Homo sapiens: one gene and its partners. The protein of the gene in region 1 interacts with the protein of each later gene in a pairwise test. Each region holds a gene or a part of one and is shown in the gene's direction. Other genes may lie near its edges. The genes, in order: CYB5R3, FAXDC2 and TMEM201.

Region 1 (3,650 bases):
TCAAAGCTCTGATTATGATTTAAAACCATCCTCTCCCTCTTTTGCCTTGCCCCCAGTAAAGGCTGCTTCCATCGGTCACTTGCCCTCTTCAGAGCCCCTCCCTTGCTCTATTTCTGGCCACCCCCAGCAGGCACAGGAGGGGTGTGGCAGGGAAAACTGAGTCACAGCAGAGAACATCATCTGCCAGGGCCCAAGTCTCCACCCTGGGCTTGTGCCTGGTGCCTCTGACTCAGGCTTCACAGGAATCTCAGGCTTCCATGGCACGGAGCTGGCCGTTTCCTGTAACTGTTGGGGCAAGTGTCTGTAATTGTCCCAGGAGCTCACAGAGAAGTTGACAACCAGAGAGAAGCAAAAAAATACAAAATGAAAAGTAAATTATTGGCCAGGCACGGTGGCTCATGCCTGTAATCCCAGCACTTTGGGAGGCCGAGGCCGGTGGATCACCTGAGGTCAGGAGTTCAAGACCAGCCTGGCCGACATGGTGAAACCCCATCTCTACTAACAATACGAAAATTAGGCCAGGCGTGGTGGCTCACACCTGTAATCTCAGCACTTTGGGAGGCCGAGGAGGGCAGATCATGAGGTCAGGAGATCGAGACCATCCTGGCTAACACGGTGAAACTCTGTCTCTACTAAAAATACAAAAAATTGGCCGGGCGTGGCTGGGCTCACACCTGTAATCCCAGCACTTTGGGAGGCTGAGACAGGCGGATCACAAGGTCAGGAGATTGAGACCATCCCGGTAACACGGTGAAACCCTATCTCTACTAAAAATACAAAAAATTAGCCAGGCGTGGTGGCAGGCACCTGTAGTCCCAGCCGCTGGCGAGGCTGAGGCAGGAGAATGACGTGAACCTGGGAGGCGGAGCTTGCAGTGAGCCGAGATTGCGCCACTGCACTCCAGCCTGGGTGACAGCAAGACTCCGTCTCAAAAAAAAAAAAAAAAAATTAGCTGGGCGTGGTGGCAGGCACCTGTAGTCCCAGCTACTCCAGAGGCTGAAGCAGGAGAATGGCGTGAACCTGGGAGGTGGAGCTTGCAGTGAGCCGAGATCGTGTCACTGCACTCCAGCCTGGGCTACAGAGCAAGACGCTGTCTCAATCAATCAATCAATCAATCAATATGAAAATTAGCCGGGCGTGGTGGCAGATGCCTGTAATCCCAGCTACTCCAGAGGCTGAAGCAGGAGAATGGCGTGAACCTGGGAGGTGGAGCTTGCAGTGAGCCGAGATCGTGCCACTGCACTCCAGCCTGGGCTACAGAGCAAGACGCTGTCTCAATCAATCAATCAATCAATCAATATGAAAATTAGCCGGGCGTGGTGGCAGATGCCTGTAATCCCAGCTACTTGAGAGGCTGAGGCAGGAGAATCGCTTGAACCTGGGAGGCAGAGGTTGCAGTGAGCCAAGATCACACCATTGCACTCCAGCCTGGGTGACAAGAGCGAAACTCTGTTTCAAAAAAATAAAAAATAAAAAGCAAAAAAAAGTAAATCACCACCTCCCAGATGAGACCACACTTAACCTTGCGATATGATTTTTTGTTTGTTTGTTTGTTTTTGAGATGGAGTTTTGCTCTCGTTGCCCAGGCTATAGTGCAATGGTGTGATCTCGGCTCACTGCAACCTCTGCCTCCCAGGTTCAAGCGGTTCTCCTGCCTCAGCTTCCCAAGTAGCTAGGATTACAGGTGCCCACCACCACGCCCTGCTAATTTTTTTTTTTTTTGTATTTTTAGTAGAGTCAGGGTTTCAACATGTTGGCCAGGCTGGTCTCGAACTCCTGACCTCAGGTGATCCACCCGACTTGGCCTCTCAAAGTGCTCGAATTACAGGCGTGAGCCACCGTGCCTGGCCCTGTGATATGTTTTATACTTATGTAAGCAGGCACACATGTTTTTTTCTTACCCAAATGAAATAATAACATTTTGAAACCTGTTTTTTAACGGTATTTTCCCTTGTTATTGTTATTGGTGGGTTGTTTTGTTTTTGTTTGTGTTTTTTTAGAACAAGGTCTCGCTCTGTCACCCAGGCTGCTTTCTGCAACCTCAAACTCCTGGGCACAAGCCTTCTGAGTAGCTGGGACCATGTGCATGCACCACTATGCCTGGCTCTGTTACTGTCGTTCCTTTTTGTTGTTGTTGAGATGGACTTTCGCTCTTGTTGCCCAGGCTGGAGTGCAATGGCACAATCTCGACTCACCGCAACCTCCACTTCCCAGGTTCAAGTGATTCTTCTGCCTCAGCCTCCCAGGTAGCTGGGATTATAGGCATGCGACACCATGCCCAGCTAATTTTGTATTTTTAGTAGAGATGGGGTTTCTCCATGTTGGTCAGGCTGGTCTCGAACTTCGACCTCAGGTGATCCGCCCGCCTCGACCTCCCAAAGTGCTGGGATTACGGGCATGAGCCACCACGTCTGACCCTACTGTTTCTTAATTCCAGAAATAATGTATGATTTATATGTGCTCACAGCAAAAACTCTGTAAGGTATGACCTCCACCCCTGCCCCATTGCCGCATCCCAGGGCCCCGTGCAGAGGGCCCAGGTCACAGCTCAGCGTGAGCCTGCCAGACCCTATGTGGGTATCACGTTCATACACGGGTGTGTGGAGGTGCGGGTGTGTGCACACTCAGTTTCTTTTTTTGATAACCTGGTTTTGTAGCCAGCCATACAACATGGATCCTTTTAGTATTTCATCATAGGGATGTTACACAAGGGAGCATGTGGCAGATGTCCTAGGATTGCAGCTTTGCCCCCTCATTGTGCCCATGGTGGCTTTGCGGGGTCCGCAGCGGGCCTGCTCTGGGTGCTCTGTGCTTTGCCCCACCCTGCTGCCCTACTAGAGGTTGGCCAGCACCATAATTGTTCATCTCTTGTCCTCATTTCTATTCTTTTTTTTGAGACAGAGTTTCACTCTTGTTGCCCAGGCTGGAGTGCAATGGTGCGATCTCAGCTCACTGCAACCTTGCCTCCCAGGTTCAAGTGATTCTCCTGCCTCAGCCTCCTGAGTAGCTGGGATTACAGGCATGCGCCACCACGCCTGGCTAACATTGTAGTTTTAGTAGAGACGGGATTTCTCCATGTTGTTCAGACTGGTCTCGAACTTCCGACCTCAGATGATTCGCCCACCTCGGCCTCCCAAAGTGCTGGGATTACAGGCATGAGCCACCACGCCTGGCCATCTCATTTCTATTCTTCCTCCAAATATTTTCTGGTACATGGGTGTCTGACCTTGACCCTTAGGACCAGTTGATAGTCCTGGAATCCACTTCCAGAAGGCCTTGGGGCTCTGTTTGCCCCTAATGCAGAAGCTTCTGGTAGAGGCAGCTTTGAGGCCTGGGCTGCCTGGGAGAGGTTGGTGGGCCCCCTGCACACCTGATCCTGAGTGGCGTTTGCACCGTCTTTCCTGCGATTTGCCTCTGCTCACACGTGTAGGGACGGGTCTCTCCTTGAGGCAGCTGCTCTGTGCTGGAACACTGCTCAGGTCGGAGAGTTCTCGTACTGAGCCGAGATGGGCATCTGTGATGTCCTGCCCTGTTGGAGAGGTCTGTTGTCCCCCTCTAAGTGATGACACCATCCACATGTGGACTTTGCCACGTTTGGATGTAAGCGCCTCTGCAGCGCCGACCTTCCGCATGGCTTCTTCACACTCCCT
Region 2 (3,750 bases), on another chromosome or scaffold:
TGGCAGCGCACACCTGTAGTCCCAGCTACTCGGGAGGCTGAGGCAGAAGAATCGCTTGAACCCAGGAGGCGGAGGTTGCAGTTAGCTGTGATCATGCCATTGCACTCCAGCCTGGGTGACAGAGCAAGACTCCATCTCAAAAAATAAAAAAAAGAAATCCTCCTGCCTCAGCCTTCCAAAGATTGCTGAGATTACAGGCATGAGCCACTGCACCCGGCATTTTTTATTTTGTTTTGTTTTTTAGAGACAGGGTCCCACTCTGTCACTCAGGTTGGAGTGCAGGGCACAATCATAGCTCACTGCAGCCTCCAACTCCTGGGCTCAAGCCATCCTCCCACCTCAGCCTCCCCAGTAGCTGGGATAACAGACATGTGCCAGTAAGCTCTACTAATTTTTTGTATATGTAGTAGAAATGGGGTTTTGCTACATTGCCCAGGCTGGTCTTGAACTCCTGGCCTCAAGTGATCCTCCCGTCTTGGTCTTCCAAAGTGCTGAGATTATACATGTGAGCCGCCGTGCCCAGCCAAGTTTCTGAGTTTTGTTTATTTTAGAAAGGAGTCTTCCTGTGCTGCCCAGGCTGGTCTCAAATACCTGGGCTCAAGTGATCCTCCAACCTCAGCCTCCCAAATAGTTGGGACTACAGGTGAGCACCACCATGCCTAGCCAATCTCCATGTTTGATTGTTAAGTGGAAAAAGCAAGGTGCACAACAAACATACTATGGTGCTGTTGCTAAAGGAGAAGCACAAGGCCTACACATGTTTCTATTTACAGAGGTAAGCTCTGGAAGGATATACAAAAATCTGGTCACAGAGGTTGTCTCTTGGGAGGAAAAAAAGGGGACTGAGGAGAAATTAAAAAAAGACTTTTCATTGTACATTCTTTTGACCCTATTGTATTTTATATCATTTGCACATTTGCTTATTTAAAAAGTTTTCAGAAATTTAAAAGCAGCTCTTTTTCCAAAGTGCTCCTCACTTCATGTCATGGGTCCTGTATCCTAAGTTCCCCTATTTCAATCACAGTGCAAATTTACCCTCCACAGGCATGCCTTTCCTGCATCTAGACTCACTAGAAATAGCTGATGCATCTCTCCTCCCTTGCCTGCCCTCCACAGGAAAAGAAGCAATGAAAAAAAAGAAAATGAGATCCTCTGGTCTCTGTCACCTTTTTATCAACTTGTACTACCTGCCATTATCTGACACCCACATCTTTTCTTGAATCTGCCTCCTCCTATGGGACAGCGACATTTTCTTAAGTTGCAGATGATGGAGAAAATTTTTTAAAAGAAAAAAAGGGGGCAGGGGGAGGGAAGCCCAGAGTTTGGCCAAATGCACGTTTTTCAAGTTCCTGCTTGAGCTTAGATTCCCTTTCCGCTTTAAGGACATGCCCTCTGGAAAGAAGGGTGTTTTGTTTCCAGCCCACACAGACCCAAACTTTTTTCATCACGTGCCTGGTCCGAGCCAGTACGCAGCTCTGTAATGAGATCACCATGGCCAGCCTCCCACCCGAGCAAAAACAAGGTTAGCCTGCAGCAGAGCCGCAGCAGCAACAGCCACCAAAGCGGGGGCTGAAAGGGAAGAGAACTTAGATTTGACCTGTGCAAGGACCTCAGCAGCTTGGACACAGCCCACTGCAGAGGTAAGTGGGAACTACGGGGGAGGGGTGGTGTTTGCAAAGGTCAGGACATGTCCAGGTTCACTTAAAGTAAGGGCAAAACAACACTCTTCCCACCTCTGCCACCACCCTGTCCTCTCTACTTATGGCAGGGTTAGATTTGCCTCTAAACAGGGTTAGATGGCAGGGTTAGAATTTGTCCTAGGACATTGCTGTAGTGCAGTCGCCTCCTTGTCTCTTACTAATGTCTGTATCCTCTGCCTGTGTTTGTACCATCTACCTCCTCAGTAGTCTAATTTTTCTAGCAATTGACAGGTGATTGTAATGGACAAGTAATTGTTTGACTTTAAAACCATTTGTAAAGGAGCAACTCCTAATTCAGAACTCAAATGAGAGGCAGAACAAACTGGAAGAGACTGTTGGGAAGCAACTGCTGCCTAATTGCTTCTCATCTCTACTCTGCCATCACCAGGAAGGTATGGGGCAAAATACAACAGTTTTAAAGTCTCTGGATAGATGTGTGGGCTATGAGCTAGACAAGTAGGTTGAAACTGTTTTGATGCAACATACTTGGATTTACCAACAGTGGCTCCAGTTGTGAAATCGTTAGTGGCTTGATAGTACCTATGGAAACACTCCACGAAGGTTATTGAGTAAAGGGCATACAGTAAAGTGTGTAGGTGGAGATGAACAATAGAACAGTGGCTTTCAGGACCTTCTGGGGCTTAAGGCAAGCAAGACAAGATGCTGATTTGTGGGTTGCTTCAGTTTCATGTGCAATTCCAATTAAATTTCTTTGAGTGGGATATACAGATTCAATTCAATTTGCTAAAACACAGATGCACTGAGCATCAGCTTCTAACTTTAGTTACGAAAGTAATTAGCACAAGGGAATGGTGCTAAAATGTTCCATAGCAAATGTTGAACACTTTTTGAGGGCAAAAAGCAATGCTTTTGATTCGTGTATCTCTTATTTATTCGGCAAATCTTTCTTGAGTATCTTCTACATGCCAGGCTTGGGCTTGATTCTGTGGATCTCGTGGTAAACAAGACAGGCAGATTCTCGGCCTCATGGACATGCAATCAAGCAGAACAGTAAGCTCAAAGGGTGCAAGTACCATGCAGCAAAAGGAGTGAAGAGAGTATTACTAAAACTGGCCCATGGGAATCATTTTTAACCTTTCCTTTCATGCATTTCATCTTCTGTTTTTGTTTTTTTTGTTTTTTGAGATGGAATCTCGTTCTGTCACCCAGGCTGGAGTACAGTGGCGCGATTTCAGCTCACTGCAACCTCCACCTCCTGGGTTCAAGAGATTCTCCTGCCTCAGCCCCCCAAGTAGCTGGGATTACAGGTGCCCGCCACCACACCCAGCTAATTTTCGTATTTTTAGTAGAGATGGGGTTTCACCATGTTGGCCAGGCTGGTCTCCAACTCCTGACCTCAGGTGATCTACCCACCTCGGCCTCCCAAAGTTATGAGATTACAGGCATAAGCCAACGTGCCCAGCCGCATTTCATCTTTGTTTTTTTTTGTTTTTTTGAGACAGACTCTTGCTCTGGCGCCCAGGCTGGAGTGCAGTGGCATGATCTTGGCTCACTGCAACCTCCGCCTCCCAGGTTCAAGCGATTCTCCTGTCTCAGCCTCCAGAGCAGCTGGGATTACAGGCGTGCACCACCACACCCGGCTAATTTTTATATTTTTAGTAGAGACGGAGTTTCGCCATGTTGGCCAGGCTGGTCTCAAACTCCTGACCTCAGGTGATCTGCCCACCTCGGCCTCCCAAAGTGCTGGGATTACAGATGCGAGCCACCGCTCCTGGCCGCATTTCATCTTCTTAAATGAATATCGGCCACTCTATCTTCTATATAAGCCTCAGATTAGTACAGATGTTGAGTCATAGCAGCTCCTCAAAACCCTCTTCACCAGAGGCTTTAAACTGTGTAATTACATTACAGGTCAGTCTCCTCAGCCCTGGAGGTCGACTGCTCAGCTTTTTCCTAGCATACAGTCTGAGAGCAGAGGCTGAAGTAAGGGGAGTTCTAATCTTTGGGTCAGTTGCCCTCTCCCTGTGTCATTTCTTATGAAATAGAAGTTATGCTATTCCCAAAATACATACAGCACTAGGCAAAGTGT
Region 3 (3,168 bases), on another chromosome or scaffold:
TGCAGCTCTGGCTGCTGCTTGGCCTCCTGCTCCAAGACCCTCCCGAGTCCCCGGAAATGGAGAGTGCAGTTCTTGGGCCCAGCCTGGCCTTCGCCATGAGTTTGGGGAGCGAGACCCCACCTGAGACAGGCAGTAGGAGCCTGTGCTGACCTTGGGGAATCTGAGCTTTTCCAAGGGTAAGGGGCCCAGGGTATGCAGGCCTTCAGTGACATCAGGTCGTTGTCATCCTTTCCCTCCCTGACCTGTCACGAGCCTCTGCAGGTGCCTGCTCACCATGGCCCAGCGCCACTCTGTCCTCCGACTCAGGTGAGGGGGCAGCCCACAGACCTGCTCCTCAGTAGCAGGGCCTGGCCAGGCCCCTGCTGTTCTCAGCCTCAGTTTGCCATCTATGAAATGAGGTGGACCCCTCTCCATAGCCCTTGGGTGCCAGCTCAGTGGGTGTGGGGATCACATGAGGTGGCTCATGAGGACACACTCTGGAAGTCGAGGGGCTGCCACGTGCAGAGGAAGTTCCCGGCCTGGGGGCTTTATCCAGGGGTCCCAGTCGAGAGTGGCCCGAGGCCGTCCCTCACCGGGCATGTTCCCTCTGGCTGCCCACTCCCTCAGGGCCCACATGTCCTGCCACTCGCCACTCTGAGCACGAGTTCACCTTCCAGATGTGGCCAGGGTGTGCCAGCTCCTCTCTCCTGTGCGTTGGAACCCCGGGGGAGGCAAGAGCAGATCACAGGTGCATGAGGGTTACACCCGTCACCTGGGTCTGCCGGGATGGGTTGGGGGGGCAGGTGCCAGGCCTCACTGCTGTGAATCTGCCACGCCTGGGGGTCCTAGAGGCTGCCCCACCCCAGTGATTGGGTAGCAGCTCACATCCCACCCAGCTTCACAAGTGAGGAACCCAGGTGCATCGGGAGACCCTCGGGGGCTTCTGTGGCCTCTGTGCCCGATGACCTGCGTGGCTTCAGACAAGGCCCCAGCGTTACTGGGCTCAGCTTGTTGTTCTGTGTGGAGCGTGAGGTGAGAAAACCCCTCTGAAAAGATGTGGTCGGGGCCACGCTTCCCACTGGTTCTGCAGTGAGGAGTTGGGGCGGGTGAGCCAAAGCGGCCCCCCATGGTGTCTACCTGAGGGGCAGGGAACCGCCTGCCTGTGCACTCACGCCACCCCCCAGCCCACAAAGAGCCCATCTGAGAGAAGGACGTGGTGGAGCCAGGACGGGAAAGCGTCCTGTCGGCTGGCCATGCTGTTGCTTGCGTCTCGAATCTTCGGTTCTCGAGGAAGTGTTGACAGTGTGATGCTAATGTCTGCTTTTCTTGGCGTTGGGTAGAAGCAGGACATCTGTGTGTATGTGCGTATTTAAATTAGATTATTTATAATAACCAGAGCCAGCCCTCGCGCTGGCCAGGATCCTCCTGCCGAGCTGATGTCGCTCCTGCCCTCTGCCGGGGTCCGGAAGCGACATCTCAGGAGGTAGCTCTCAGCAGAGTGAGGATTCCTGCCTTTCGTAGAGTTTTGTGTGACTTTTTAAATTATTCATGTGTCCCTTAAAAGTTTCACTACGTGGAGAAAATTCCAGCACCAAGTGTTGTGGCAACAGCTGAGAGAGTGCAGGCACCACTGTGTTGTGGCTTGTTGACCGGGAATGTGTCACCCCTGCCAGGGAACTCTTCTCCTCGCGGGGGACTTGGGATGGCCATCAGACCTTCTAGGGTCTGGCTGGGGTCATCCTAGGTATGGGTGACCGTCCCTGAGACATAAGCGAGGTAGATTCAGCCATCCTCACCCTCAGACTTGAGGTCCCCACCCAGGCCAAGCCGGCCCCCCGTACCCCTTGCCTGGGAGCAAACCGCCAGGACGCAGCCTCCACGCCGCACCTGCCACATTCAGCCCTGCCCAGGAAGGAACACATGACCCTTCTGTCTGTGACTGTTGCTGAGTCTCTGTCTCATGTCGTAGAATTGTGGATAATTGTCTAGTGACCCTCTCATCACTGTAACCATCGCGCCTGGCCTAGATGTCGTGTTTTGGATGCTGTGTTTTCAATAAATGCCTCTGGGGCCCTGCTTTTACCCGCTGGCGTCAGGTGCCGCGTCTTTCTTCTTTTTTCTTTCTTTCAGAAGGGCTCTGTGCCAGGGCTGGGGTGGGCAGCTGTGTTTGGGGTACAGACACGTCCACAGGAGTCAGGTTTGGGAGCCAGTGACAATGACACCAGCTGGCTCGGGGCCCGGCTCGCCTCCTCGCCTTTGCTGGATCATATTTTTTCCGTCTCAATAAACTGTTGCTTAAAACGTGGTCTCTCTCCTTCCACTCCTGATGTGGGCTGGGATTGGGTCGGAGAAGACCAGACATCTCCCCTTGGTGTCAGATGAGCGTATCCGCTCCGGCACTCCCCAGAGCCAGCATCCAGGCCTGATCCTGGTCACTTAGTCCCTCTCTGACACTCCCCAGAGCCAGCATCCAGGCCTGATCCTGGCCTCTTAGTCCCTCTCTGACACTCCCCAGAGCCAGCATCCAGGCCTGATCCTGGTCTCTTAGTCCCTCTCTGAGACGTGGTTTGAGGGCACAGGGCAGTCGGGGGGGGTCTCTCGCCAAAGGAAATGTTAGCACCTTTGGAGTTCTCCAGGGTCCAACAGATTGGGCTCCTTTAGCTGGCGGAGGCTCGCTGGGGCGCCTGTACAGAGCCCAGCCCCTCATGCCCAGCCCTGTGAGCGATTTACGAGGTCTTGCTGGTTGAGTGATGTTCCCACATATCACAGTGAGGGAGTCAAACTGCGAAGGAACTCCCCACAGCACCATCTTCAGTGGCACCAAACTGGGAACAACAGCCCCTGTGCCAGGTGGCCAGGAGATTCAGCCTTTAAGCACTGAGGCAGCCCCGGGTGGTGTGAGCAGGAGCTGGGAGGAGTGGGGATGCACTGGCAAGACCCAGCCACTCCTGCTAGAGCCCACCCTTTGGGGCCAGGAGCTGCGTGGCCCAGCTGACCACCTCATACCCACAGCCCACTAGGACCCTCCTTTCACACATCCCCCAACGGTACTCTCAGGTCACTGGGGGACCTGGTCACCCTTGGCTGACTCTTGGCTATGTCTGTGCTGCCGGGCAGGGTGGGCACAGGAAGCCTAGCGCAGAGCCCTGCCCCACAAACTCCCTCCCATGGAGGGTCATGCCCCAAGGT

The links.
Region 2: the proteins of CYB5R3 (region 1) and FAXDC2 interact in binary tests that used the Homo sapiens proteins (3 or more experiments, as listed by UniProt).
Region 3: the proteins of CYB5R3 (region 1) and TMEM201 interact in binary tests that used the Homo sapiens proteins (3 or more experiments, as listed by UniProt).

The regions. Positions count from the first base shown.
Region 1 is NC_000022.11:42,632,270-42,635,919, reverse strand, and holds part of CYB5R3 (NADH-cytochrome b5 reductase 3), read left to right. Parts: intron 1-3,650. UniProt on the Homo sapiens protein: Catalyzes the reduction of two molecules of cytochrome b5 using NADH as the electron donor.
Region 2 is NC_000005.10:154,848,373-154,852,122, reverse strand, and holds the start of FAXDC2 (fatty acid hydroxylase domain-containing protein 2), read left to right. Parts: upstream 1-1,519; 5' UTR 1,520-1,640; intron 1,641-3,750. UniProt on the Homo sapiens protein: Promotes megakaryocyte differentiation by enhancing ERK phosphorylation and up-regulating RUNX1 expression.
Region 3 is NC_000001.11:9,602,889-9,606,056, forward strand, and holds part of TMEM201 (transmembrane protein 201), read left to right. Parts: exon of another isoform or gene 1-2,061; intron 2,062-3,168. UniProt on the Homo sapiens protein: Critical regulator of angiogenesis and endothelial cell (EC) migration. Promotes the migration of endothelial cells, which is essential for angiogenesis.